Regions from separate parts of the Homo sapiens genome. Here region 2 is linked to region 1. Evidence: fine-mapped QTL for protein levels in blood plasma. A gene starts in region 1. The other region holds a variant in brackets. All regions are shown on one strand. Distances are between the middles of the regions.

Region 1 (14,950 bases):
GTAAATTAGTACAACCACTATGGAAAACAGTTAGGAGGTTCCTCAAAAAACTAAAACTAGAGCTACCATATGATCCAGCAATCCCACTCCTAGGTAGAGACCCAAAAGAAAGGAAATCAGTACATCAAAGAGATATCTGCATTTTCATGTTTGTTGCAGCACTGTTCACAATAGCCAAGATTTGGAAGCAACGTAAGTGTCCATCGACAGATGAATGGATAAAGAAAATGTGGTACATATATACAATGGAGTACTTACTATTCAGCCATAAAAAGAACAGGATCCTGTCATTTGCAACAAATGGATGGAACTGGAGGTCTTTATGTTAAGTGAAATGAGCCAGGAACAGAAAGACAAACTTCAAACGTTCTCATTTATTTGTGGGAGTTAAAAATTAAAACAGTTGAATCCATGGAAATAGAGAGTAGAAGGATGATTACCATAGGCTGGGAAGGGTAGTGGGGGCTGGGGCAAGTGGGGATGGTTAATGGGTACAAAAAATTAGTTAAAGACTGGGCGCGGTGGCTCACGCCTGTAATCCCAGCACTTTGGGAGGTCGAGGTGGGTGGATCACCTGAGGTCAGGAGTTTGAGACCAGCCTGACCAACATAGTGAAACCCCATCCATACTAAAAATACAAAATTAACTGGGGGTGGTGGCACCTGCCTGTAATCCCAGCTACTTGGGAGGCTGAGGCAGGAGAATCGCTTGAACCCGGGAGGCAAAGGTTGCAGGAAGCTGAGATTGTGCCATTCCACTCCAGCCTGGGTAATAAGAGTGAAACTCCGTCTCAAAAAAAAAATAATTACTTAGAAAAAATGAATCAGAGTTGAGCACAGTGGCTAACTAACTTCTGTAACTCCAGCACCTTTGGAGGCTGGAGTGGAAGGATCACTTGAGCCCAGGAGTTTAAGACCAGCCTGGGCAACGTAGGGAGACACTGTCTCTAAAAAAATTTAAAAATTAGCCAGGCATGGTGGTGCAGGTCTATAGTCCCAGCTACTGGGGAGGCTGAGGTGAAAGGATCATTTACACCTGGGAGATCAAGCCTCCAGTGAGCCAGGATCACACCACTGCACATCAGCCTGGGTGACAAAGCGAGACCCTGTCTGAAAAAATAAAAATAAAATGAATCAGACCTAGTATTTGTTAGCACAACTAGGTGACTATAGTCAAAAATAATTTAATTGTACATTTTAAAATAACTAAAAGAGTATCATTGGATTGTTTGTAACAAAGGATAAATGTTTGAGGGGATGGACACCCCATTTACTCTGATGTGACTATTACTCATTGCATTACTATTACTCATTGTATCAAATAACCCATAAATTTATACACCTACTACTTATCCACAAAAATTAAAAATTTAAAAATTTAAAAATCCTCCTACTTCAGCCCCCTGAGTAGCTGGGACCACAGATATGCACCACCATGCCTGGCTAATTTTTTAATTTTGTGTTAGAGATAGGGTCTCATGTTGCCCAGGCTGGTCTCTAACTCCTGGGCTCAAGTGATCCTCCTACCTCAGTCTCCCAAAGTGCTGGCATTACAGGGGTGAGCTACTGCCCCATCCAGTACTTTTTATTAAGGCCCCTGGGGACATATCCCAGTTTTTTCTTCTTTTTTCTTTTTTCCCTTGAGACAGAGTTTTGCTCTGTCACCCATGCTGCAGTGCAGTGTCACGATCTCAGCTCACTACAACATCTGCCTCCCAGGTTCACATGATTCTGCTGCCTCAGCCTCCTGAGTAGCCAGGATTACAGGCATGCACCACGCCCGGCTAATTTTTGTATTTTTAGTAGAGATGGGGTTTCGCCATGTTGGCCAGGCTGGTCTCGAACTCCTGACCTCAGGTGATCCTCCCACCTCAGCCTCCCAAAATGCTGAGATTACAGGCGTGAGCCACTGCGCCCGGCCCCAGTATCCCAGTCTTACAGCTGTTATTGGACTGAAGAAGTCAGTTGGTTCTTTAACGTCAGTCACAATTGAACCCAAGTCAAGTCTAGCCCATAGTTTCCAGAGATGTAATGTTATAGTTTGGGTTTCCATGGCAGGAAACACATTTCATGCCATGACCATACCAAAATTGAAGATTAAGAGAAACTAAAATCAGCCAGGCGCAGTGGCTCATGCCTGTAATCCCAGCACTTTGGGAGACAGAGGTGGGTGGATCACCTGAGGTCAGGAGTTCGAGACCAGCCCGGACAACATGGTGAAACCCCATCTCTACTAAAAATACAAAAATTAGCTGGGCGTGGGCCAGCCACGGTGGCTCACGCCTGTAATCCCAGCACTTTGGGAGGCCGAGGCGGGCGGATCATGAGGTCAGGAGATCGAGACCATCCTGGCTAACGTAGTGAAACCCCGTCTCTACTAAAAATACAAAAAATTAGCTGGGTGTGGTGGCGGGCGCCTGTAGTCCCAGCTACTCGGGAGGGTGAGGCAGGAGAATGGCGTGAACCCGGGAGGCGGAGCTTGCAGCGAGCCGAGATCGCGCCACTGCACTCCAGTCTGGGCGACAGAGCGAGACTCCGTCTCAAAAAAAAAAAAAAAAAAGAGAAATTAAAATAAAATAAAATACAAATAAATAACAAACATAAACTAAACATGTACCCAGTCAAAAAGTTAAATTGGCTTGTTCTCACTTGTAACCTCAACACTTTGGGAGGCCAAGGTGGGAGGATCCCTTGAGCCTAGGAGTTCAAGACCAGCCTGGGCAACATGGTGACATCCCAGCTCTCCAAAAAAAAGTAAAAAAATTAGCCAAGTGTGGTGGCTACTTAGGATGCTGAGGTAGGATAATTGCTTGAGCCTGGGAGGTCAAGGCTGCAGTGAGCCATAATTGCACCACTGCACTCCAGCCTAGACAACAGAGTGAGACCCTGTTGTAAAAAACAACAACAACAAAAAAGCTAAACTGTCAATGCTCCTTGGGAGAAATTTGTGCATGAACTGGATTTGCTAATGTTTATTAAACTGCAACTTCTATGGAATGTTCTTGGTAATGTCCATAAGCATTCCTCTGCTCAAGGACCTTAAAAGTCATCCAACTTTTTAATCATCTTTCTTGGAAATTACCATCTCTGATGAGATGTGCGTGAATGGCCCTCCCCGGAGAATTTCAGTAACCAAAGCTGGGGAAAAAGCAGTTACTCCTCCCTCCTTCATTTCCCCTCCTCAAAGATTACAGCTAACTTTTATGTAAATCTTTAGTACTTTTTGATTGGCCAGAAGTTTCCCCTGTTCTTTCCCATAGTGGTCGTTCCTTGGTTTCTCTTTAAGCTTTTTCCTTTTTTTTTTTTTTTTTTTGTGAGATAGTGTCTTGCTTTGCCACCCAGGCTGGAGTGCAGTGGCGTGATCTAGGCTTACTGCAATCTCTGCCTCCTGGGTTCAAGTGATTCTCAGGCCTCAGCCTCCCGAGTAGCTGGGATAATAGGTGCACACCACCATGCCCAGCTAATTTTTCTATTTTTACTAGACACGGGGTTTCACCAAGTTGGCCAGGCTGGTCTCGAACTCCTGACCTCAAGTGATCTGCCCACCTCAGCCGCCCAAAGTGTTGAGATTACAGGCGTGAGCCACCGCTCCTGGCCTCCTCATTTTTTTTTTTTTATTGAGACAAGGTCTCACTCTGTCGCCCAAGCTGGAGTGCAGTGGCACAATCACAGTTCACTGTAGCCTTGACCTCTAGGTTCAAGCAATCATCCCGCCTCAGCCTCCTGAGTAGCTGGGACCACAGGCGTGTGCCACCATGCCTAGCTAATTTTTGTATTTTTTGTAGAGACAGAGTCTTCCTATGTTACCCAGGCTGGTCTTGAACCCCTAAGCTCAAGTGATCTTCCCACCAAGGCCTCCCAAAATGCTGAGATTACAGGCATGAACTACCAAGCCTGGCCCATGCCTCATTTTCAAAAGAGACTAAGGAAAATCCCAGATTTCCCAGAGGAAGTGACATTTGTCTTGTATGAAATTTTGGCAAGTGCATGGGGACCCAATCTGTGTGGGCACTGCTCGAGAAAAGGCCAGGAAATACGGCAAAAACTATTTGCACTGAATATTTATTTTTTGAGATGGAGTTTCGCTCTGGCATTCAGGCTGGAGTACAGTGGTACAGTCTCGACTCACCGTACCCTCCTCCTCCCAGGTTCAAGCGATTATCTTGCCTCAGCCTCCTGAGTAGCTGGGATTACAGGCGCCTGCCACCATGCCCGGCTAATTTTTGTATTTTTAGTAGAAACGGGATTTCACCATGTTGGCCAGGCTGGTCTCAAACTCCTGACTTCAGGTGATCCACCTGCCTTGGCCTCCCAAGGCAAATCCCAAGGCAATCCCGAAGTGCTGAGATTACAGGCATGAGCCACAGCGCTGGCCTGCCCTTAGTGTCTTCCATTTCCTCCTCCAGATCCATTCTTCATTTTTCTCCACGCTGTTCTACATCCTGGGAGCTGACTCATATGGACTGCGGCAGCAGACTTCTTTGCCCTGAAATTTCCAGTTGGGCTCTACCAACGGGAGGCACCAATAAAAGAGAATGACATTGTTTAAGTCCCATGGCTCTCTCCCTGCCAGGTCACCATGGATTGGCAGCATCCCTCCACTGAGGACTGAAACTCCTGTCAGGTAGCTCAATAACTGTCTATCTCTCTCTGCATTCAGGTAACATTTTTGTCCCTTCAGCCCTAAGGATGGTAACAGATATTGTACCATCTCTAATTGCTTTTCTTATACTCTGCCCACAGCTTTGTAAATAGCTCCTGTATTAAGCTCTTCTCAAAGTATCCATTTTGAGCAAGCCATCTGTTTCCTGCCAGAGCCCTGACATTGTGTTTGATTAATGGGTATTAGTTCAGACTAGCTGGTGCATGAAATGTGTGTGATGAAACAGTAAAACATCATGTAAGAACAGTAGGCTGAAACAGATGGTGGAGGGGCTTGTCTTCCAGGCCAGGAAGTCTATCAGATAATAAGAATCTCAGAAGGTTTTAGATCAGGAGTGACATACTTTAAGAAAACTAATTTAGTAGCTGTATGCAGAATAGTTCAGAAATTGGAGATGGGGAGATGAGTTAGGAGATGATTACCATTACTAGTAGAGGAAGGTAATATTTTGTAACCATCAAACTGGCAAAGACCCAAAAATTTCTTTTTTTTTTTGAGATGGAGTTTTGCTCTTGTCGCCCAGGCTGGAGTGCAGCGCCACAATCTCAGCACACTGTAACCTCTGCCTCTTGGGCTCAAGATATTCTCCTGCCTCAGTCTCCCAAGTAGCTGAGATTCCATGTGTGTGCCACCATGCCCGGCTAATTTTTGTATTTTTAGTAGTGACGAGGTTTCACCCTGTTGGCCAGGCTGGTCTCGAACTCCTGACCTCAGGTGATCCACCTGCCTTGGCCCCCCAAAGTGCTGGGATTACAGGGATGAGCCACCGCGCCTGGCACCACCCCCTTTCTTTTTTTTCTTTTTTTTTTTTTTATACAGAGTCTTGCTCTGGAAATGCAATGGCACAGTAATGGCTCACTGCTACCTCTTCTTGCCAGGTTCAAAGGATTCTCATGCCTCAGCATCCCGAGTAGCTGGGATTACAAACACGCACCACCACCCAGCACTTGGAAGACCACGGGGGACAGATTGCTTGAGCTCAGGAGTTCGAGACCAGCCTGGGCAACATGATGAAGCCCTCTCTACAAAAAATACACAAATTAGCCGGGGGTGATGGGGTGCACCTGTAGTCCCAGCTACTTGGGAGGCTGAGGTTGGAGGATATCTTGAGCCCAGAAGGTCCTTCACCCAGACCCTGTCTCAAAGAAACAAAGGAAAAAAAAAAAAAAAAGGACCGGGCACAGTGGCTCACGCCTATAATCCCAGGACTTTGGGAGGCTGAGGCAGGTGGATCAGCCGAGGTCAGGAGTTCAAGACCAGTCTTGCCAACATGGTGAAATTCTCTATTAAAAATACAAAAAATTAGCCGAGCATGGTGGCGGGCTCCTGTAATCCCAGCTGCTCGGGAGGTTGAGGCAAGAGAGTCACTTGAACCAGGGACGCTGAGGTTGCACTGAGCTGAGATCACGCCACTGCACTCCAGCCTGGGCAACAAGAGCGAAACTCTGTCTCAAAAAAAAAAAAAAAAAAGAAACACGTAAAGAGTGATGGCTCTCCGAAGGAACTGAATGTCTAGGGACAAAGGAATTACCTATGGTTTTTTGTTTTTGAGACAGTGTCTCACTCTGCCACACAGGCTGGAGTGCAGTGGCGTGATGTCAGCTCACGACAACCTGTCTCCCAGGTTCAAGCAGTTCTCCTGAGTAGCTGGGACTACAGGTGTGAACTATCATGCCCGGCTAATTTTTGTGTTTTTAGTAGAGACGGGGTTTCACCTGGCACCGGGTCTCCAACTCTTGACCTCAAGTGATCTGCCCACCTCAGCCTCCCAAAGTGCTGGGATTGCAGGCGTGAGCCCCCGGGCTCAGCTCTGGAATTTATTAAATATGTATCTATACCCTGACACTGCTGGTTACTGTCTATAATCCGAGTGTTTTGGGAGGCTGAGGCAGGAGAATTGCTTGAGGTCAGGAGTTCGAAACCAGCCTGGGCAACATAAGGAGAGCCCATCTCTTTAAAAACAAAACACACACACACACACACACACCAAACAAACCCATGTATTTACTGCAGACCTACTTTATTATGCACCGTGATGTTTCAAGTATCACAAACCATTACAAAGCAATATAATCACCCTCCTTCCCCCTTACTGCTTCAAACTATTGTGGTAAAAATAAATAAATAAAGCCCTGGCGTGGTGGCTCACGCCTGTAATGCCAGCACTTTGGGAAGCTGAAGCGGGTGGATCACCTGAGGTCAGGAGTTCGAGAGCAGCCCGGACAACATGGCGAAACCCCGTCTCTACTAAAAATACAAGTTCGCGTGGTGGCGCGCGCCTGTAATCCCAGCGCGCCACCACGCTGGGGGACGGAGTAAGACTCAGTCTCAAAGGCATGACGAAAATAGCAAAAATGCTTTAGTGTTATACCTGTTACGAATTTAATGGAAATTACAAGTAGGAGCCCATTACAATCTCTAGCCTTAAAATGCTGAAAACATACACAGTGTGACAATAAGTAAACTTCGAGACCCAATAAGGGGGAAAGTCCAACGTGGAAAGTATTTGGTAGGAGTGAAGAACAGAGTGACAACTGCTTAGTCCCACTGGATATTTCGCTCCTCTTCAGGAAGAATACTCCAGTTTGGGGAGGCCATATCCCGGGCCAGCCAGTTAAAATCGTCAACATCGTTCCAGTTATTTTTGCTCCTATCTAAACCAGAGCTCTCGAAGTCCTTGTCGATCTCCGGGTAGCTCCAGGTGTAAGGGGCGAACTGGATCCCACTGCAGTCCTCCACGATGGCCCTGCTGGTCACCTGCAGGAAGATGCGGGTGTCTTTCGTACTGTGTATGCGGAGCTGTTGGCAGGCCACTGCCAGCACGCAGTCACTGCAGTCCTCCAGGAAAACAGAGGTAGACACCGGACCGCAGAGCAGCTTGCAGCTGTGGGCCTTGGTTAGCCGCAGGGTGTTGGGATTTCCATACAGTCTGACCGTGCAGTTGCTCAGTTCGGTCAAAAGAACGTCGCGCTGGTGCAACTCGCTGGCTCTCTTCTCCAAGACTTGGGACTCCAGGTTGGAGAAACCGCAGACCCAGCTGGGGCCGAGGTCTCCTTCCGCCTTCTTGGGCAGCGGGGAGTCCTGTATGCTTTCAACTGCCGGGGGGATGCCAGGAGCCGCGTCTACTTTGGTAGACGAAGCAGCATCCTTTCCCCGGGTCTTGAAAGCGAAACGCTTCTTGGGCTGCAGCCCCCGGCGCCGCTCGGCCAAGGCCGCCTGCAGCCGCGCCAGCGCCTCTTGTCCCTGCCGCAGGTCGTAAGCGGCTAGGAAAAAAACTGAGTCGTTGATTAGTTTCTGCAGCCCCTGGAGCCGAGAGGCCGCCTCCTCCAGCCGCTCGACCGACTCCGCGCGCTCCAGAAGCTCTTCCACGGCCGCTCGCTCCCGAACAAAGGTGGCGACGAAAAAGTGGCTGTTCTCCTTCTCTACCTCCTGGTTCTGCCGCTTTTGTTTCCGCCTTTCAACTTCCAGCTGCCGTTCTTGTTCGCGTCTCTGAAGCCGCTCAGGCACCAGGCTCAGGTCCCGCTGGGACTCCATGTCTCCGGTCCTGACAGCAGCAGCGGAGCAACTGACGGACTCCATATTGGCTTCAAGCTTCCTCTCTCTTGTCTTCCTTCCTCCGGGCGCGCTGTCCGTGAGGCCTCCCACCAACGCGTCCGGTGATTGGCCTAACATGATGATGTCAGATCCCCGGCCTTATTTTCTTCGCCTATTGGTTCCTCTGCGTCGGAGGGGGCGGGGAGATGGGGCGGGGCCGACTGACTATGGGGGTGGGAAGACAAAGGTTCTTGTGGATGGGTGGGGTGGGAGGCAGGCGGGGGAATCTTTTTTTTCCTCTTAAAGGGGCAGGACTTATATCCGGGATTGTGGGGTGAGTTGCAGCAGCGGCAGCTGCACATGTGGGTTTGTTTATAAGAACAAGGTTAGAAACTCGCAGGCCTCCCCCTCCCCCCAGCTCCTCCCTACTACCCCCTTACAGGCCGGAGATCCGCTACTAGGGGTGTGGGTGGGAGGGATGAGTGCGTGTGGTGGGTTGGGGGGACAGGTAGTGGTGAGAAAGATGGAGCGGGGGGGAATATTGCACCGCCTGGCCCGCGCCGGAGGAAGCAGCAGCTGGAACAGCTGGCTGGGGAGCCGCTTGCATGCCTCCGGTTTTTTCTTTTCCCTTCCACCACCCCTTCCCCCAACCCATTTCTGCCTCCCCGTAGCCCTCATCCTTACCGCCCCCCTCCCCCCTATCCACTGCAGTTCGGCGCGGCCTGGGGGCTCCTGGATCCCCGCAGGCAGTTACTAGGGCAGGAGAAGGCAAGGGGCACTGCGATGGGAGAGACTGGGTTCCTCACTGCAACCTGGTTCGAGGGGCCCTGGGGGAGTCCATAAAAGGATTACTATTTTTTTGGCCAATTGCTGCAGTCGGAGGGGTGGGGGCGGGGGAAGGTGAGATCCACACCCCCTTCCTCTTTCTTCCCTGCCCTCCCCGAGCTCGGTCCCGGCCACTCCCTCCGCAGCTGGGCGTCGCCGGCCGCGCTGGGGTGAGACCCTAGCCCCGGGCTCCGTGGCTCTCTGGGGCGGTCGGTCTTAGGAAAGCGGTGGGAGAAGCGGTACATTATTTCTAGGGGTGGTGGGAGGGATTTGTCACCGGAAGTGAATGGCCTAGCCTAAAGTCGGGACCAACCCGAGGTGTGGGTGGGCAGCCAAGACGGCGCAGTCACTGGCAAAAACCCGAGGCAGCGGGCAGGGCGAGAACCCGAGACGCAGCCGCTGCCCGGGCGCGGCAGCCTCGCATGCTTCGCTCAGATCTGCGGAGCTCCCGAACCTCTTTAACCCTGCCCGCCCTTCCAACCCTAGGTTTCCTCCTTATATCCCCAGTTCCCAGCCTCCATCGTTTAAATTGGGGTATTTAACGACCCAAGAAACTTGAAATTTCACCGATCTACCTGCATTTTGATGCAGAGAAAGATGGGAGGAAACGCGAACCATTGAATTAAATCTGAGTTAAAACTGATCTCCCATTTTCACGCCCCACTCTCTTCCTTTCCTTCCCACTTAAAACAAACAAAACACACATAAATTGCTGGGCCAGAGTATTTCTCCGCTGAGAGCACAGTTCATACCGTGTGGCAGATTCCCCGCGCAGGCGGGGCGCGGGGGCAGGGGAGAGGCTTGTGTGTCCGCGTGCCTGCGTGCACCCGATGGAAAAGGGGGTGCCGAAAAACAATGGTGCTTACTCTTGTGCATAGTCATCGTTTTCACTAGTCTTGTTTTATGGGCAGATTAGGTGAGGCTTCTGTTTTTGCTTTTTTGTTTTATTTTGTTTTTTTTTTTTTTTTTTGAGACGGAGTTATGCTGTTGTTGCCCAGGCTGGAGTGCAATGGCGCGATCTCGGCTCACCGCTATCCGCCTCCCGAGTTCAAGTGATTCTCCTGCCTCAGCCTCCCGAGTAGCTGGGACTACAGGCATGCGCCACCATGTCCGGCTAATTTTGTATTTTTAGTAGAGACGGGGTTTCTCCATGTTGGTCAGGCTCGTCTCGAACTCCCGACCTCAGGTGATGCGCCCGCCTCGGCCTCCCATAGTGCCGGGATTACAGGCATGAGCCACTGTGCCTGGCCCTTTTTTTTTTTTTTTTTTTTTCCAGAAAAGCAGGTTTATTTCACAAAACTGTGGGTCTGAAAGCTGGTGGACAAGAAAGCTAGTTATATTGTCCAAGTCGTGGAGGAATTGCAATAGCTGCTTTATTTTATGAAATGTTGATTTAAGCAAAGAAGCTTTAGAGAAGATTTATTTTTCTAGAAAAAAACAACCTGACCTTTTAAGTTTTTCAGGTTGAACCTGTCTCACTCAAATTAAGAACGTTTGTAGCTAAAGAAGGTTTATTGGACTTGGAGGTTGCAGCTGGAGTGAGATAACATTTCGGTATTAGGCATAGTGAATCTATGGGTGTTGTAAGTGTTGGCTGTATCCCAAGTGGAATTGAATGTTATTAAACCCTTTCAAGAACTTCATTTCTGTCTACCAACAGGTTTTTGCTACAATCCAGTAGACTTGGGAAGTTTCTAAATACTTGAAGTTGGTTAGTTCGAACTTTCAAGAAAAGGAAACAGTTAAAAACAGAGCTTGACAGGTCACCCAGGTGACCCGGTGTGTTAGGGGCAGTTTCAAAGACTGATGTGAGGAGTAGTGGAAAGGGGTCAGTGAGTGATACGGTCATTGTGAAGCATTGGCTGGACAGTTCTTTACAGCCCCCCTGCACAGCTGCAGGCTGTGAGGTATGTGGTCAAGAAATGGAGATAAAGCTGTTTCTGAGTTCAAACACAGTAGGAAGGCTGCGAAATGGCTGGCATTGCCCGGCTGTGTTTGCATCCTCTCTCTGCCATTTGAGGGCAGTGGATTCAGCATGCATCTTTGAAATATATCCCAGCTTGTCAGAGGTAAGTGCCTGTTTTGATGGAAGGAGAGTGGGGAATGCATTACGGGGGAAATGTAGCAAAAGGCAAGCAGCTCTGAGTTCTGCATCCTACTTTCAATGATATCTCAAAGGGCTTGTGAATCAAGGTACTGCTCTCTTGTAGACATCTTGAAAAATGAAAGAATTCTAACGTATTATGGACTTTACCGTTTATTTAACAACAGTTTAGATACTTTATGGTTCTATTTGTTAGATCCCCCTTTTAACTTTTTGAAAATTTCCAACATATATAACATGGAGAGGGTATTAGAATAGTGTTCCAAGGACTCACATACCCATCACCCAGCTTCAACAACTGCCAACTGATGTTAAGTAAATAAGCCAGGAACAGAAAGAAAAATATCACATGTTCTCACTCGTATGTGGGAACTGAAAAAGTTGATCATATGGAGTTGGAGTGTAGAATGATAGTTACCAGAGGCTGGGAAGTGGAGGGAGATGAAGTGAGATTGGTTAAAGGGCACAAAGGCACAAGTTAGATAGAGGGAATAAGTTCTAGTGTCAGATAGCACAGTAGCCTAATTCGAGTTAACAATAATGTATTGTACATTTCAAAATAGCTAGAAGAAAGGATTTGAAATGTTCCCAACACAAAGAAGTGATAAATGTTTGAAGTAATAGATATCCCAATTATTCTAATTTGACCACTACATATTATATGCATGTATCAAAATATCACATGTACCTCATAAATATGTACAATTATTATATATCAATAAAAATAATAATAACTTTTTAAAAAACAGTTACCAACTGAGAATCTTGTTTCCTGTAAAGCCCTAGTCACTTCCCCACCTCTCACCCTGATTATTTTTTGGCCCATCCCTTATATTATATTATTTCATATTTTATTGTCTATAAATATTTCACTATATACCTCTAAAAGATTGGGAGTTCCTTTTTTTTTTTTTTGAGATAGAGTCTCGCTCTGTTGCCCAGGCCAGAGTGCAGTGGCACGATCTCAGCTCTGTGCAACCTCTGCCTCCCAGGTTCAAGTGATTCTCCTGCCTCAGGCTCCCAAGTAGCTAGGATTACAGGTGCCCACCACCACGCCCGGCTAATTTTTTTTAATATATATAGTTTTAGTAGAGGCGGGGTTTCACTATGTTGACCAGGCTGGTCTCGAACTCCTGACCTCATGTTCTGCCCACCTCTGCCTCCCAAGGTTCTGGGATTACAGGTGTGAGCCACCGTGCCTGGGCCCTTTTTTTTTAAATTGAGACAGGGTCTCACTCTGTCACCTAGGCTAAAGTGCAGTGGTGCAATCACAGCTTACTGTAGTCTTGACCTCCCAGGCTGAAGTGATCCTTCCACCTTAGCCTCCTGAGTAGCTGGCACTACAGGTGTGCACCACCACTCCCAGCTAAATTTGGTATTTTTTTTTGCAAAGACAGGGTTTTGCTGTGTTGTCCAGGCTGGTCTTAAACTCTTGGGCTCAAGTGATCTGCCCACCTCGGCCCCTGGAAGTGCTGGGACTACAGGTGTGAGCCCCCACGCCTGGCCACTTCCCTTTTAAGACAGCCACATTGCCGTCACCACACTCCAAAAAAGCATAGAAAATATTTTCTCAATAGCAGATTGCCAGTCTATATTCACATCTGATTATCCCATAATATACGTTTGCTTTTTTCTCAAGACGACGTCTTGCTCTGTCGCCCAGGCTGGAGTGCAATGGCGCGATCTCGGCTTACTGCAACCTCCACCTCCTGGGTTCAAGTGATTCTCATGCCTCAGCCTCCTGAGTAGCTGGGATTACAGGTGCCCACCACCATGCCTGGCTAATTTTTTGTATTTTTAGTACAGATGGGGTTTCACCATGTTGGGCCAGGCTGGTCTTGAACTCCTGACCTGAGATGATCCGCCTGCCTCAGCCTCCCAAAGTGCTGGGATTACAGGCGTGAGCCACCGCGCCCGGCCTTTTTTTTTTTTTTTTTTTTTTTTTTTTTTTAATACTTTAAGTTCTGGGATGCATGTGCAGAATGTGCAGTTTTGTTACATCGGTATACATGTGCCATGGTGGTTTGCTGCACCTATCAACCTGTTATCTAGGTTTTAAGCCCCGTATGCATTAGGTATTTGTCCTAATGCTCCCCCTCCCCTTGCCCAGTTTCCTTTTTTTAAAGTTATTTTATTTGAATAAGGATCCAAACAAGTTCCATACACTGCATTTAGTTATTGTGTCCCTTAAATCACTTTTTTTTTTTTTTAGTTAGACAAACAGCTTTATTTGAAAGATGTGGTCAGCCAAGTCCCCCTCCAACCCCAAGGTCCTGGCAGCATTGGCCTCAGGCGTGGGAGGACCCGTGTCCTGGGTGGAGAGCCTTAAATCACTTTCACTGTGTGGGTTCCTTTTTCTCTAAATTGTTTTGTTGAAGCAGCTTGGTCATTTGTTCAGTAGAGTTTCCCACAGTCTGCATTTTGCTGGTTGCATCTCTATACAGTATTTGTTAAATTTTAAACGTCTGTTGTATTTATTTGATCTTTTAATGTTACAAAGGGAATCTCATGATTGTAGTTACATGCCTCAAGAAGTAAGTAGTGAAAGCATTTAAGCAAAGGAAAACAGTCTTTAGGTATGGTAAACAATAAAGGAATAGGCCCTTCGGTGTTCTCTGGAGTTTGTCAGGGACCCTGCACTGGTGGAAGATACCAGCCACACCCAGGCAAATAAAAGGACCCTTTTTCTTTCTTTTCTTTTTTTTTTTTTTTTTTTTGAGACGGAGTTTTGCCCTTGTTGCCCAGGCTGGAGTGCAGTGGCATGATCTTGGCTCACCGCAACCCCCGCCTCCTGGGTTCAAGCGATTTTCCTGCCTCAGCCTCCCAAGAGGCTGGGATTATAGGCATGCGCCACCATGCCGGGCTAATTTTGTATTTTTAGTAGAGACGGGGTTTCTCCATGTTGGTCAGGCTGGTCTTGAACTCCTGACCTCAGATGATCCGCCCGCCTCAGCTTCCCAAAGTGCTGGGATTACAGGCATGAGTCACCGCGCCCGGCCAAGCCCCTTTTTCTAGTAGTTTGATGCCAGAAAGAAGCATCACCTATTCATCTTTCAGCAAGTCTTGACTATATATGGGATGTAAAGCATTCATTAAAGAGCTGTGCACATCAAAATTATCAAATGTTAGGCAAATCTTCCTACCTTGGCTACTTTCTGGCAGGAAGACAGTGAAAGGTGACAGTTGTGCAGGCAGGTCCTGTTGTTGGGAAGCAGGACAGGAGCAGCCTTTTCCTTCTGCCTTTGCCCCTGGCGCTCTCCTCTGCCTCAACGCCCTTGACCTTCTGAAACTTTTTTCATCATTGTACACTTAACGTCTAGCACATAGGCTGGCACGTGTTTATTTATCTAAACATCTGTTTATTAAGCACTAACTGTGCCCAGCACTGAGCCAGGGAGGCCCTAAGACTGCCAAGGTGGATAAAAACAGACATCGTCCCTGTCCTCCTTAAGAAGGCCTAATTTGGGCAAATAGTCACAAAAACATGTAAAATGTGTTCTTTGCTTGCTGAGACTGGGTCTCTCTCTCACCCAAGCTGGAGTGCAGTGGCATAATTATAGCTCACTGCAGCCTCAAACTCCTGGGCTCAAGCAATTCTCCCATTTCAGCCTCCTGAGTAGCTGGGACTACAGATGCATGCCACCGTGCCCAGCTAATTTTTTTTTTTAGATTGAGTCTCACTGTTTCCCAGGCTGGAGTGCAGTGGCGCCATGTTGACTCACTGCAGCCTCCACCTCCCAGGTTCAAGCAATTATCCTGCCCCAGCCTCCTTAGTAGCTGGGATTACAGGCACACACCACCATGTGTGGCTAATTTTTGTATTTT
Region 2 (14,950 bases), 150 kb after region 1:
GTTAACCCCTGCACCATCTGTAACTCAGAAATCCCCACCATTTCTTCCCCTGGGCTTCAGAATAGAATTGCCTGGTTTCTCTGATGATCAGCATGGTTCCTTAAAACCCAAATCAGCAAGGAATGAACAATTTTGTTTGGCATGGATGAAATTAGCACTGTTTGGCTCGTTAGGCCCCAGGCAGGCAGGCACCTTAATTTTTTCCTTGCATATTCTAGTCTTCAGAAGCATTGCCTTTTGTCCTACTGGTAGTGACATAGACCAATAACAGGGCATCTGGGGATTTTAATCCTGAAAACAGTGAGTCTGATACTGCTTGTGTTTTTCATCAGTGTCCACCCCAAGTGGGTCTTCCTGCTATTCTCTTCACTTAGTTGCCCCTCACTTGCCATCTGAGCAATTGGCAAGGATGTGCCAGGCCTAGGTTAAACTTGGAAACATGCTTGACCATTCTATTCCCTGGTCCTTTAAGATCAGTTTGGCTGCAATTTTGGCTCCTTGGACCCTCAAGCATAGCTGGTAAATCAAGTTAGAGATGTAACTGCCTTAAAACATGCCAGCTTAGGCTGGGCACGGTGGCTCACACCTGTAATCTCAACACTTCAGGAGGCTGAGGCAGGCAGATCACTTGAGGTCAGGAGTTCGAGACCAGCCTGACCAACATGGAGAAATTCTGTCCCTACTGAAAATACAAAATTAGCCGGATGTGGTGGTGCATGCCTGTAATCCCAGCTACTTGGGAGGCTGAGGCAAGAGAATTGCTTGAACCCAGGGAGGCAGAGGTTGCAGTGAGCCGAGATCACACCATTGCACTCCACCTTGGGCAACAAAAGCAAAACTCTGTCTCAAAAAAAAAAAAAAAAAAAGTGCCAGCGTATGAGGTAATTAGATTGGTTCTCTCCAGAGGTAACCTGCCAAGAAGAGATGCTATAGATGTTACTCCTATACTGTAAAACATTGTGAAATCAGATTACTTTAAAATGATGTATTACAAAGTTATGCAAAAAAGCAGTTGTGACTATGGAAGCCCAAGGCTTATATCCCAGCTCTGTCTTACACTAAATATGGGTACAGTGTTTCCACTCTGTCCATAAAATGGGAGCTAATATTCTCCAACCTGTGTGCCTGACATGATGGTTAAAGGGATTAAACAAAACAATAGTTTGTAATTTATTCTGTCAGAGCAAACTGCTGGTAAATAAAAGGGACTAAGTTGACGAAAAATAAATTTTAAAAAACCTAATAAAACAAGTTTGTAATTTATAATTGTATACAAATAAAAGATGTTACAAAAATTGCGCACTTATATGTATGTACCATGACATAACTAATTCGTTGAACAAGTTGTGAGACAATCCTTTCTGAGAAAAGGTAGACCTGTTACATCGTCTGTGGGTTAGGGTCATGTCAGCACGTACCAGGTACATTCTAGCTTTTGTAGAGAAAGTAAAATCTAGTGTTGAGTATGTAGGCACTGAGCCAGGTGGCCTGCTTAACATAAAAGGACTGATTTCAGGGTGGCTGTGGGAGCCTTTCTAATGCTCTAATTCTCTAGCCCCTTGCCTGATCCAGCTGATTCCAAGAGCCAAGATTTTAGTCTTTCTTGGTTGGCTTTTTTAAATGCTTTGGGCTTTCCTTTAATGTATCTTCAAAATCATTCTGGGGCCAAGTTACATCATAAAACATTTTATTACATATAAGGACTGAAACAGGATTTTTCTTAACTGTAACATGGTCCACAAATGTAAATGCAAAACCCCCATGGTGGTTGCAGGAGCAAGTCTAGTTGAGACAGGTCAGGACGAAAGCATAAAAGATGAGTAACTGAATGGCATCCCGGGTCCTGTAGCCACGCCCTCCAGATCGCCGCCGCAAAGGACCTGGAACCTCAGGGGCCCACTGTATGCCATGAAGAAGGCGCAGTCGCTGCCTCAACCAAGCCAGGCTCCGCCGGGGCCGTTCCTATCCTGAGGGTCGGAGGGGGAAGGGACTCAGCCAAAGCCGCGGCCTCCCAGGGCTTGGGCCTCCGCGGCAGCCGGGACGCTGTGGGTTCGCCGTGGATCGCCGCGATGTGGCGTTTCTCCAGGCCCGGGAGTTCCTGGCCCTGCTGGACCAGCTGCAGGAGCTGCGCCAGGGTAACCGAAGCTGAGGCAGAGGCCGGGGCCGAGCATTGGGGACTGCGGGGACGCTCCATGTCGGGTCGCGAATCCTGACCGGCGTGTAATGCAGAGAAGCGAGCACTTCCGGGCCGAATGGGTGCAACCACCATGGGGGAGGTGGGGAAAGGAAAGGGAGGCTGTAGACCGTACCAAGCCGGCCCAGAACTGGGGGAGCACTTGACAACTCTGACCAGCTCCCTGCAGAAACGCTTTAGAAGCGTCCACGATTTAGCCAAACCCAGAGTGCCCAACGGACGCGCCAAAGAAGAAAAACGGACGGACGTGCCAAAACTTGAAGGCTAGCACAGGACAGAACAAGCCTGCGGACGCGCCGCTGCGGGCAAAAAGACCCATACATACATAAGCACCGCGCACATGCCCATTTTCATGCACACCCCCGGGCGCGCGTACAAGGATTCAGATACAACGCATGGCGGGGGATAATCCCCATACTAGGCTCCGCAGCACGGGACAAAGCATAACTGTAGAGTTGTTCCCAGAGGCCTCAGGAGTGACACCGCCACCAAGCCACGCTACTCTCTTAGTTGTTATTATTGTTTTGTGTTGTTTTAGACGGAGTCTCACTCTGTTGCCCAGGCCGGAGTGCAGCGATGCGATCTCAGCGCACTGCAACCTCCGCCTCCTGGTTCAAGCGATCCACAGGGTCCCTAGTGCCTCAGCCTCCCTAGTAGCTGGTGTATGCCACCAAGCCCAGCTAATTTTTGTATTTTTAGTAGAAACAGGGTTTCACCATGTTGGCTAGGCTAGTCTCGAACTCCTGACCTTAAGTGATGCACCCGCCTCAGCTTTCCAAAGTGCGGGGATTACAGGTGTGAGCCACCGCACCCAGCCAGAGCCTCACCACTTTCTTCACACTTCCTGCCATCCTTCAATTCTTGGTGGTCCCAGAGAAGATCGAAGGTGAAAGCAGGTCAGATGTGCTACAGCTGCTCTGACTGCTCGGAAAGTCAGGTTTTTAAATTATCAAAAGTGGCCGGGCACGGTGGCTCACACTTGTAATCCCAGCACTTTGGGAGGTGGAGGCAGGTGGATCTCAAGGTCAGGAGTTTGAGACCAGCCTGACCAACATGGGGCAACCCCCGTCTCTACTAAAAATACAAAAATTAGCTGGGTGTGGTGGCATGCACCTGTAATCCCAGCTACTCAGGAGGCTGAGGCAGGAGAATCGCTTGAACCTGGGAGGCAGAAGTTGCAGTGAGCTGAGATTGCAGCACTGCACTCTACCCTCGGTGACACAGCAAAACTCTGTCTCAAAAAAAAAAAAAAAAAGTATCAAAAGCTAGACTGATCTGGTGAACATCACCTTAATCAAAGAATCAAAGCTTAATGGCCAGGCGTGGTGGCTCACACCTGTAATCCCAGCACTTTGGGAGGCTGAGGTGGGCAGGTCACCTGAGATCAGGAGTTTGAGACCAGCCTGGCCAACATGGCGAAACCCCATCTCTACTAAAAATACAAAAAAATTAGCCAGGCATAGTGGTGCGCACCTGTAATCCCACCTACTTGGGAGGCTGAGGCAGAAGAATTGCTTGAACCTAGGAGGCAGGGAGGTTGCAGTGAGATGAGATCACACCACTGCACTCCAGCCTGGGCAACAGAGTGAGACTCAGTCTCAAAAAAAAAAAAAAAAAAAAAGCTTAATAGGACAAACTGGCCTTGTGTGCCTTCTGATGTGATGCACTGGGAAGGACACACACACGGGGAGTACATTTCTGTAGTAGTCCTCCCCAAAATGCCCAAAAAATGTTCACTCACCACCTAGTCTTGAGGAAATAGAGATCAAAGTGAGAGAGATTCTGCAAAATGATTGGTCTGGACACTTTACAGATGTCGTTGTTATAAAACATTAAGAAAAAGCTAAGAACTACCCCAGATTAAAGGAGACATAAAAAATAAATACAGGCCAGACACAGTGGCTCATGCCTTTAATCCCAGCACTTTGGGAGGCTGAGGTCGGTGGATTGCTTGAACTCAGGAATTCAAGACCAGCCTGGGCAATATAGCAAAACCCCATCTCTACTAAAAAATACAAAAAAAAAAAATTGCTGAACATGGTGGTGGACACCTGTAGTCCCAGCTATTCTGGAGGCAGTGGTCGAAGAATCGCTTGAACCCGGGTAGGTGGAGGTTGCACTGAGCTGTGATTGCCAGCAACTTCCGACTGGGAGACAGAGTGAAACTCTGTCTCCAAAAATAAAATAAAATATAAATAAATAAATAAATTCAATGAGTGATCCTGGATTAGATGCAAGATTGTGTAGGGGAGATCAGCTCTAAAGGACATTTTACCCTTGGGGAAATTTGAATATGATCCATATATTAGATGACAACGATATATCAATGTTAAATTTATCAAGTGTGATAATTGTGGTTATGTGTGGGAATTACCTTGTTCATAGCAAATACATTCTGAAGTATGTAGAGGTGAAGTGTCATGATGACAGAAAGAAAGCAAATGTGGCAAAATTGCTAAGAATTAGTGAATCCACGTGAGGGTTTGAAACTTGTCAAAATAAAAAGTTGGGGTAGGCCCGGTGCAGTGGCTCACGCCTATAATCCCAGCACTTTGGGAGTGGTCAAGGCAGGAGGATCACTTGAACCCAGGAGTTCAAGACTAACCTGGGCAACATAGTGAGACCCCCTCCAAAAACAAAAATTGGCTGGATGTGGTGGCACACACCAGTAGTTCCAGCTACTTGGAAGGCTGAGGCTGGAGTATCACTTGAGCTCAGGAGGTTGAGGCTGCAGTGAGCCAAGATTGTTCCACTGCACTCTAGCCTGAGCAACAGAGACTCTGTTAAAAAAAAAAAAATTGGGGTAGGGGGCACTTGGTAAGAGCTTGAGAAGCCAGTCTGGAGGAAACTGACCATATTGAATGTTGTATAATAAAGAATTTTGAAGGGGTGGCCTGCCCCTCCACACCTGCGGGTATTTCTCGTCAGGTGGGACGAGGGACTAAAAAAAGAAATAAGACACAGAGACAAAGTATAGAGAAAGAACACTGGGCCCAGGAGACCAGCGCTCAGCGTACGGAGGACCTGCACTGGCCCCAGTCTCTGAGTTCCCTCAGCATTTACTGATTATTATTTTCACTGTCTCAGCAAGGGGAATGCAGCAGGAGAACAGGGTGATAGCGGGGAGAAGGTCAGCAAGAAAACATGTGAGCAAAGGAATCTGTGTCACAAATAAGTTCAAGGGAAGGTACTATGCCTGGATGTGCACATAGGCCAGAT[A/T]TATGCTTCTCTCCACCCAAACATCTCAGTGTAGTAAAGAATAACACAGCAGTATTGCCACCAGCATATCTCGCCTCCAGCCACAGGGCGGTTTTCTCCTATCTCAGAATAGAACGAATGTACAATCGGGTATTATACTGAGACATTCCGTTCTCAGGGGCATGCAGGAGACAGAGGCCTTCCTCTTATCTCAACCGCAAGAGGCCTTCCTCTTTTACTAATCCTCCTCAGCACAGACCCTTCACGGGTGTCGGGCTGGGGGATGGTCAGGTCTTTCCCGTCCCACGAGGCCATACCTCAGGCTGTCTCAGTGGGGAGAAACCTTGGACAATACCTGGCTTTCCTGGGCAGAGGTCCCTGTGGCTTTCTGCAGTGCATTGTGCCCCTGGTTAATCGAGAATGGAGAATGGCGATGACTTTTACCAAGCATACTGCCTGTAAACATTTTGTTAACAAGGCACATCCTGCACAGCCCTAGATCCCTTAAACCTTGATTCCATACAACACATATTTCCGTGAGCACAAGGTTGGGGCTAAAGTTACATATTAACAGCATCTCAAGGCAAAACAATTGTTCAGGGTACAGATCAAAATGGAGTTTCTTATGTCTTCCTTTTCTATGTAGACACAGTAACAGTCGGATCTCTCTTTTCCCTACATATCCCCCTTTTTGACAAAACTGCCATCGTCGTTATGGCCCGTTCTTGCTGGTCGCTGTCTCTTCGGAGCTGGTGGATACACCTGTGGACTAACAACAGACAGAACAGGCATACAAGGATTAATATGAAATTTACAATAGTGGAACTTCTGATGGTTTTTAACCAAGTGACAGTGTTAAGATTTGTGAGGCCATCAGTAGCTTTCACGATTGCCTCAGTTCCCAAATTTAAATGGGCTTTCGATGCCTCAAAATTTTGTTATTTTAATTTTGAAATATCTAAAGTAAGATTATCTTCTCTTCCCTGTAGATGGCATCTAACCATGTCCCAGTGATGCTCAGACTCATTATAGGCTTGGGGTGTAATACAAAAATCTGACATATTCCAGTCACACTGTAACTGAAAAAGATATTCCAAGCTCATGAGCCTATTTCCCAGCCAAATGACAGTTTGTCTAAGATCATTAATTTCGTTTGCCAATTTTTGATTTATTTGGGTCTGAGAATTCCACAATTTTGAGGAATTCTTTCGCCAATCATTTACATATTCTGCAGTTTGAACAGAGGAGTGTAAAGCAATTCCAGCAGCTGCAGCAGTAGCTGTGACTGCAATAAGGCCCATAATCACTGCAATCAAAGTAAAAATCTTTTGGATCTAGTTAGAATTCCTTTTAATACTTCCGTTAAAATATGGAAGATGGCGAAGCCTCCCACTGTCGGTCCATGGACACAGGGATCCGCACACCTTCTCTTGCCCTCACTAGCAGAATATGGCGCTGCCAATTAAAAGTCAAATCAATGCAAGTAAACAATCTACAGTTTTCACAGGTTATAGTTTGGGAATCTGGTTTAATAACTATGTTTTCTATAACTAGCATATAAGGGGGTTTTACACAACTTTGTAAAGGAATTGTCAGATTGGAATTTAGGTTGATAGTATAATATGGCTTACGATTTCTTGTTTCTGTAGCTTGATTTCCAGACCAAATTCTAATGTAGTGCGAGGCCACAGTAAGCTTCCATAATTTTGGATGTTTAGGACCAGTAACAGGACTAACTAACTTTGGTCGAGGTGATGAAATTCCCTTTTCACCCCATTTCCAGGGATAGGGTGATTCTAGCCTTCTATAAACCTGGTCCAGCCTTTCAATTAAATCACTATCATAGGCCGGATTAATGGGCCAGATGGATGGGGCCTGTAAACATGAGTGAGTCTGGCCCATACAATTATATATAATATAATTGTATATAATATAATATAATATATAACTATTATATAATATTATAGTAGTTCCAAATTCATTGTTTTGTAATACCACCGCAGTATTAGCCACACATTCTTCCCAAACTAAGGCTTCTGGGCTTTTTGATTCTTTGGGAATTTCCTTGGGGCAAGGCTTCCCCTTAGGCCCAGATTTTAATGATCTTTGATAAGAAGCGTCCTCTAAATTATTTATCTGTGGCCCGAGTGACATTCCACTTACCATGTGATAAGTAAATTTACTGGTGGCACTGACGGTAGGTACTTCTACCAACCAGTTTTGGGTTGTAGGCATTAAACATCCTGGTGCCTTCCCTAGGCAAATAGGAGGATAATGATACCCAGTGGAAACATTTATCATCATTCCTTCTTCTTTAGGTTGGGCAGGGCAACAATCGTCTGTGGGGCCTGGTACCCATGCCCTATTATTAACATATACTTCAACAGGATTATCCATCCATGTGACTGCCCAAATTAAGGGTGGGAAAGGCACATAGGCACAGTAAGTATAATTAGTTGCAGCTGCTCCTGCAGACATGGGGAGACTTACTACCGTTGATATAATAATCAAAGCTGTAAGCAGTATATTCTCTGGAGTTCACATTACCCTTGTGTTCTTTAGGCTTTTTTTAGCTAACTGTGTCAGCTTCTTTAATTGGGCCCAAGTCGGTGGCTCCGCTTCCTTGGTGGATGGCAACTTCATCTGTTCTTCTGATATCACCATTTTATTTACCTGGCGAGTCGATGATGCTCAATTGAGGGTTTTTTGTCTCCGCAGAGGCGCTTTTCTTCGCATCTCCAAGGGGTTCATTGTAGAACTTTAAATTTCTAGTGGGTATCCAACCAGGAAGCTGATTTTCTCCTTGTGAAACACAAGCAAAGCCTCTCTCCCATGTTATCACCTTCCCTATTTCCCATGTCTTATTTTTCTTGTCTTTCCACCAAATCAGTTTTCCTTCATGTGGGCTATTCTTTTTACCAGTAAAATGTTGTTCTGCAGAAGTAGTGGTTTGATTTCTATAAATGTTTAAAAAATTTAAAGTATAGAGTGCTAGATTAAGTTGCATCTGGGGAGTGTTATACTCCTTACTGTCTTTTTTCCTTTTTTTGTTTAACCAATTGAGCTTTGAGTGTTCTATCAGTTTTTTCAATTATGGCCTGTCCTTGGGAATTATAAGGGATTCCTGTTGTATGTGTAATTTTCCACTGATTTAAGAATTTTTGAAATGTTTTACTACAGTATCCTGGCCCATTATCCGTTTTAATTTTTTCTGGAACTCCCATGACAGCAAAACAAGATAATAAATGTCTTTTAACATGGGAAGTATTTTCTCCTGTCTGGCAGTTTGCCCTTACAAAATGTGAATAAGCATCAACTGTCACATGGAGAAATGACAATTTTCCAACTGAAGGTACATGTGTGACATCCATTTGCCATAACGCATTAGGACACAGACCTCTGGGATTAACTCCTGCCTCCTGAGTGGGCAGGTGTGGAATCTGACACTGGGTGTAATGTTGTACAATATTTTTTGCCTGTTTCCATGTGATGTCAAATTTATTTTTTAGTCCTGTTGCATTTACATGAGTCAAGGCATGAAGTTCTTGTGCTTCCAGGAATGCAGATGATACTAGCAAGTCAACTTGTTCATTTGCTTTAGTTAAAGGCTCTGGTAAATTAGTATGTGCTCGAATATGAGTAACATAAAATGGGAAATTTCTTTTTCTTACAGTTTGTTGTAACATATTAAACAGCTGGTTTAACTGATCATCTATACTATATTTGATTAGGGCTGTCTCAACATCCTTTGTAGCCTGTACTACATATGCAGAATCTGATACAATGTTAATAGGCTGATTAAAATCTTGTAACACTGTAATGACAGCAACCAACTCTGCTCTTTGAGCCCAGTGATATTGAGTTTCAATGAGTCGTTCTTTTGGCCTGGTGTAAGCCGCTTTTCCATTGCTGGAACCATCAGTAAACACTGTCAGAGCATTTTCTAAAGGTTTATGTCTAGTAATTTTAGGTAAAATCCAAGTAGTCAATTTTAAAAACTGGAAGATTTTTGTTTTTGGGTAATGATTGTCAATAATTCCCACAAAATCAGCAAGACCAATCTGCCATGCACCAGAATTGATAAAGGCTTGTCTAACCTGTTCCTTGTTTAAAGGAACAATGATTTTATCTGAGTCACTTTCACACAATTTTATTATTCGTAATCTTGCCTGACCAATTAATGTAGCCATTTGATCCAAGTACAATGTAAAAGTCTTAATTGTACTATGAGGAAGGAAGAACCACTCCACAAGATCTGTATTTTGAGCAATAATGCCTGTTGGAGAATGTGCAGTAGCAAAAATCAAAAGTTGGAGTGGGGCTAAGTGATCTATTCTATTTACTTGTGCTGACCGAATTTTTTCTTCAACTAATTCAATTTCTTTAGTTGCTTCTGGAGTTAATGTTCTTTTACTATTCAATTCTGGATCCCCTCTTAAGATAGAGAACAAATTTGACATGGCATAAGTAGAGATGCCTAGAGTTGGCTGAATCCAATTAATATCTCCTAGCAATTTTTGAAAGTCATTTAATGTTTTTAATGTGTCTTTTCTTATTTCTATTTTTTATGGTTTAATTTTCGTTTCCTCCACCTGCATTTCCAAGTAATGGAAAGGAGTAGAGGTTTGAATCTTATCAGATGCTGTCGTCAGTCCTGCGTTTGCAACCTCTGTCTGCAGAAATGTGTAACAGTCAATTAATTTGTCTCTCCTTTCTGTAGCACACAAAATATCATCAACATAATGAATGATATAAGAGTCTGAAAACTGTCTCTAATTGGTTGAAGAGCTTGAGCTACAAAAGTCTGGCAAATAGTTGGACCATTAAGCATTCCCTGAGGCAACACTTTCCACTGAAACCTGGTGGCTGGTTCTTTATTATTTATGGCTGGTATAGTAAAAGCAAATTTTTCAAAATCCTGTTTTGCCAGAGGAACGGTAAAAAAGCAATCCTTCAGATCAATTATAACTAAAGGCCGATCTTTGGGGATCATGACCGGAGAGAGCAACCCAGGTTGGAGAGCCCCCATGGGTTGAATTACAGCATTAACGGCTCTTAAGTCGGTCAGCACGCGCCATCTGCCGGATTTTTTCTGAATTACAAACACAGGAGAATTCCAAGGCGAAAATGAAGGCTCAATATGTCCCTTTTCTAATTGTTCCTTTGCTAATAAGTGTAAAGCCTCCAGCTTTTGTTTTGGTAGCAGCCACTGATTCACCCATACAGGTTTTTTTGTTTTCCAAGTTAATGGAATGGGTTTTGGAGGCTCTACAGTGGCCGCTCTTAAAAAGGATACCCTATTCCTTTTCTTTTTTGAGTTTTTTCAGCCTCAATTGGGACTTTAATGCTGTCTTCATTCTTTCCTAGTCCCTTTTCAGGGAGATATCCCATTTTAGTTATGATTTTTTGACTCGTGGGGCTGTATTGGGGGCTGGGATAGTAATCGCTGCATGCCATTGTTGTAACAAGTCTCGGCCCCATAAATTAATTGGAATAGAAGTGATCATAGGCTGAACTGTACTTTCTTGATCATCAGGTCCTAGACAATGTAAACTCATGGCACTTTGATACACTTCTGAGGCAGTGCCTACGCCGACAAGTCCTGTAACAGGCTTTTGTTTAGGCCAATTTTGGGGCCATTGATTTAAGGCAATGATAGCACCATCACCCAGTATCCACTAATCCTTCAAACTGCTTTCCCTGAATAGTGACTGCACACACGGGTCTATCCTCTGAGACCTGACTAGCCCAATAAGCGGCTTTTCCGGCAGGGTTGGTACTTCCAAACCCTCCTGTTCTTTCCGTTTTGTTTTTCCCAATTTTAATACAAGGCAAAAGCAGTAATTGTGCAATTCTATCACCTGGATTGGCACTCCAGGGAACAGTGGAGCTGATCACTAACTGAATTTCCCCTTTATAATCTGAATCAATTACACCAGTATGAATTTGGACTCCCTTCAAATTTAGACTTGATCTCCCTAAAATAAGGCCTACCGTCCCTTCTGGCAGCGGGCCATATACCCCTGTAGGAATCTTTTGCGGGGGCTCTCCAGGGAGTAAAGAAACCATTTGAGTAGAACACAAATCTACTGCTGCGCTGCCTGCTGTGGCAGGGGACAGCTGTTGTATTGTTGTAATTGGCTGACTCCCTGAAGTGGTGGTATTTCCTGCGGGAGTTTTTGTCCCTGAAAACCCTGAGGAACAAACGGCTGAATCGGAATGCCCCAATTTGTTGCGGGGCCTGAGGCTGGCCCCTCTTCCCATTTCCCCAACAATGGTTGCCCATCTTTATCAAATTTAGAATGACATTGATTAGCCCAATGTTTTCCTTTTCCACATTTTGGACACAGGCCAGGTGGCTCTTTATTTTTTGCCGTTATAGCTTGATTTATTTATATTTATATTTTTCTTTTTTTTGAGACGGAGTCTGGCTCTGTTGCCCAGGCTGGAGTGCAGTGGTGCGATCTCGGCTCACTGCAAGCTCTGCCTCCTGGGTTCATGCCATTCTCCTGCCTCAGCCTCCCGAGTAGCTGGGACTATAGGCACCCGCCACCACGCCTGGCTAATTTTTTGTATTTTTAGTAGAGATGGGGTTTCACCATGTTAGCCAGGATAGTCTCGACCTCCTGACCTTGTGATCTACCAGCCTCGGCCTCCCAAAGTGCTGGGATTACGGGTGTGAGCCACCGTGCCCGGCCAGCTTGATTTATTATATTCTGTTTACTTAAGACTGGGCAACTCCTTTTCGGATGACCGATTTGACCACAATTATAACATTTTTTCCCAAATGTTCTAACTTGTCCTCCTAAAGCGACTCCCGCTATTGCTTCAGCCATTAGCATTGCCTTTATACATAGCTCCTCCAATCCCATCATAAGCCTTCACTTATTCTGTAATTACATCAACTCCTGCTGGAACTTTTCTTTTTAATGGCTTTATGGCCGATTGACATTCTGGATTTGCATTTTGATAGGCCATTAATTCTACAATATCTTTTCGGGCGTTATCATCTGTAACAGATTTTTGAGCAGCATCTTGCAACCTTGCCACAAAGTCTGGATATGGCTCTTTAGAGACTTGTCTAATTGAATTAAAAGAAGGGCAGGTGGTTCCCAGGTCCTGAATTTTTTCCCAGGCCCTGAGGCAAATAGCCCTTAGGTGTTCAATAGCCCTTAGGTGTTCAACAGGTGTTCTGCATTACTGATTGTTGGTTAATGGTGCTCCAATTTGGACCTGTTCCTAGCAATTGGTCTGCATCTATATTAACAGTGGGGTTAGTAACCTGATTTTTTCGTACCTGTTCTTGTACTCCATCGATCCACCACGGTTTAAACTGTAGAAACTGAGAGGGTGAAAGGGAAGATTTAGCCAAAATTTCCCAGTCATAAGGAATAAGTCTATTTCCATGAACAATGGAATCTAATAATGTTCTCACATAAGGGGAGTTGGGTCCATATTAACTCCTTCCTTCATATCTTTTAACATTTTCATGGTGAAAGATTCATATCTAGCTTCAGTTTGGACAGACGCTCCTGCTAGAGTCCCTTTCCCGGCCGGTATCGGTTGTAAAATTACCGGGAACTCCCATGCCTCAAGATCTCCCTGTTTACTGGCTTTATCAATAATTTCATGCAGTGTACTACCTTGTCCACTAGGTGGTGCGGTAGGATTAAACACCACTGCCGTGGGTTGCTGGTATGGTGCCGTGCTATTTGGCACAGGACACACCACTTGAGGTCTGTATTTAACCTCTGGAGGTGGCCGATACTGAAGGTCGGCTGGCGGCCAGTACTGATAAATTACTGGTGGTTGGGTCTTATTTTCTACCAGCTTATATTGTGGATACTGCATCTGAATTGGCATTGCCGGGATAGAGACTCTATCCTTTTCTACTTGATATTCTCTTGGGGTTTGTACTTGTCTAACCTCCCTTTGAGGTTGTAATGTTACAGGTATCTGAACCACGGGAGGAGTTGATGGCCATCGTGGTTTAGGCTCTGATGGCCCCAATAATTCTGGACCTCCTTCCCCCAATTTTGATTATTCATGATATATTACCTCCTTTAATTGATTGTAGTCAACATTTTGCGTTGACCAAGCCATTACAGACTCTGCTACATATTTACAATGTGAACTTTCCATTCCTTTCCTAAACTCTGTCTCTGCCTCTTCTTCACAATCTATTACACAGCTTTCAGGGGCAGCAGAAATGCTATCTTCTTCTGTTTGAAACGGTTCTAAAGTTGCTTTAATAATGGCCCAATCATTCCATACTGTAAGTAGGATGATTTTACCTTCCCTATTTGCTTGTTTTAATTCTTTGCCAATTTTTTTCCCAATCTTTTAGATCTAAAGTTCTCTGTTCTGGAAACCAGGGGCAAAATTGTTCTATTGTTTGAAATAGCGTAATTAGATTTTCTGTAGAAGCCCTAACTCCCCCTCTTCTTAAAAGAATTTTAATGAAGCTGAGATAAGAGGCATATTTACTTTCAGTTTGTCCCATTGTTACCCTGGGTTCCTCCGAGCACACAAGCTTACCGCAAGGCTGACGGTGGACGTACTCGGGAATCTCTCGTCGACTGTCCTCAATGCTCACGTTCTTAATGTACCTTCACCTTAGAGAAAGGCACCCACATTGGCGGCAGATGAAGGGGTGGCCTGCCCCTCCACACCTGTGGGTATCTCTCGTCAGGTGGGACGAGAGACTAAAAAAAGAAATAAGACACAGAGACAAAGTATAGAGAAAGAACAGTGGGGCCCAGGAGACTGGCGCTCAGCATACAGAGGACCTGCACCGGCCCCCGTCTCTGAGTTCCCTCAGTATTTACTGATTATTATTTTCACTATCTCAGCAAGGGGAATGTGGCAGAACAGGGTGATAGCGGGGAGAAGGTTGGCAAGAAAACATGTGAGCAAAGGAATCTGTGTCACAAATAAGTTCAAGGGAAGGTACTATGCCTGGATGTGCACATAGGCCAGACTCATGCTTCTCTCCACCCAAACATCTCAGTGTAGTAAAGAATAACAGAGCAGTATTGCCACCAGCATATCTCACCTCCAGCCACAGGGCGGTTTTCTCCTATCTCAGAATAGAACGAATGTACAATCGGGTTTTATACTGAGACATTCCGTTCCCAGGGGCATGCAGGAGACAGAGGCCTTCCTCTTATTTCAACTGCAAGAGGCCTTCCTCTTTTACTAATCCTCCTCAGCACAGACCCTTCACGGGTGTTGGGCTGGGGGATGGTCAGGTCTTTCCCGTCCCACGAGGCCATACCTCAGGCTGTCTCAGTGGGGAGAAACCTTGGACAATACTGGCTTTCCTGGGCAGGGGTCCCTGTGGCTTTCTGCAGTGCATTGTGCCCCTGGTTAATCGAGAATGGAGAATGGCGATGACTTTTATCAAGCATACTGCCTGTAAACGTTTTGTTAACAAGGCACATCCTGCACAGCCCTAGATCCCTTAAACCTTGATTCCATACAACACATATTTCTGTGAGCACAAGGTTGGGGCTAAAGTTACAGATTAACAGCATCTCCAGGCAAAACAATTGTTCA

Which allele goes with the higher level. Alleles are on the strand shown, and positions count from the first base shown. The strength of an association depends on the size of the effect and on how common the allele is.
For the plasma level of the protein whose gene starts at base 8,271 in region 1, T is the low allele of the variant in region 2 and A is the other (weak association).

What was found. PIP is the chance, under the fine-mapping model, that this variant and not a neighbour inherited with it causes the effect. Protein levels are from antibody-based Olink assays in UK Biobank. Linkage for the fine-mapping came from a reference panel and not from the study's own genotypes, which makes the PIPs less certain.
Region 2: its variant is fine-mapped to the plasma level of the TBCC protein (UK Biobank, PIP 0.98).

The regions. Positions count from the first base shown.
Region 1 is chr6:42,737,833-42,752,782 of GRCh38, forward strand. It overlaps TBCC (tubulin folding cofactor C), which reads right to left and starts at 8,271. Exons shown (of 1, transcript NM_003192.3): 1 at 6,666-8,271. The coding sequence starts at 8,241. The coding sequence ends at 7,201. It also overlaps a transcript of BICRAL not described here. RefSeq lists enhancers at 7,760-7,919, 7,980-8,059, 8,090-8,299, 8,364-9,327, 9,714-9,763 and a silencer at 9,270-9,329.
Region 2 is chr6:42,888,595-42,903,544 of GRCh38, forward strand. It overlaps RPL7L1 (ribosomal protein L7 like 1), which reads left to right. Exons shown (of 6, transcript NM_001366481.3): 6 at 1-1,306. PEX39 (peroxisomal biogenesis factor 39) reads right to left here and starts at 2,227. Exons shown (of 1, transcript NM_001008739.2): 1 at 1,671-2,227. The coding sequence starts at 2,194. The coding sequence ends at 1,889. RefSeq lists enhancers at 1,719-2,568, 2,629-2,678 and a silencer at 12,935-13,164. The variant A/T (reference allele first, on the strand shown) is at 5,414.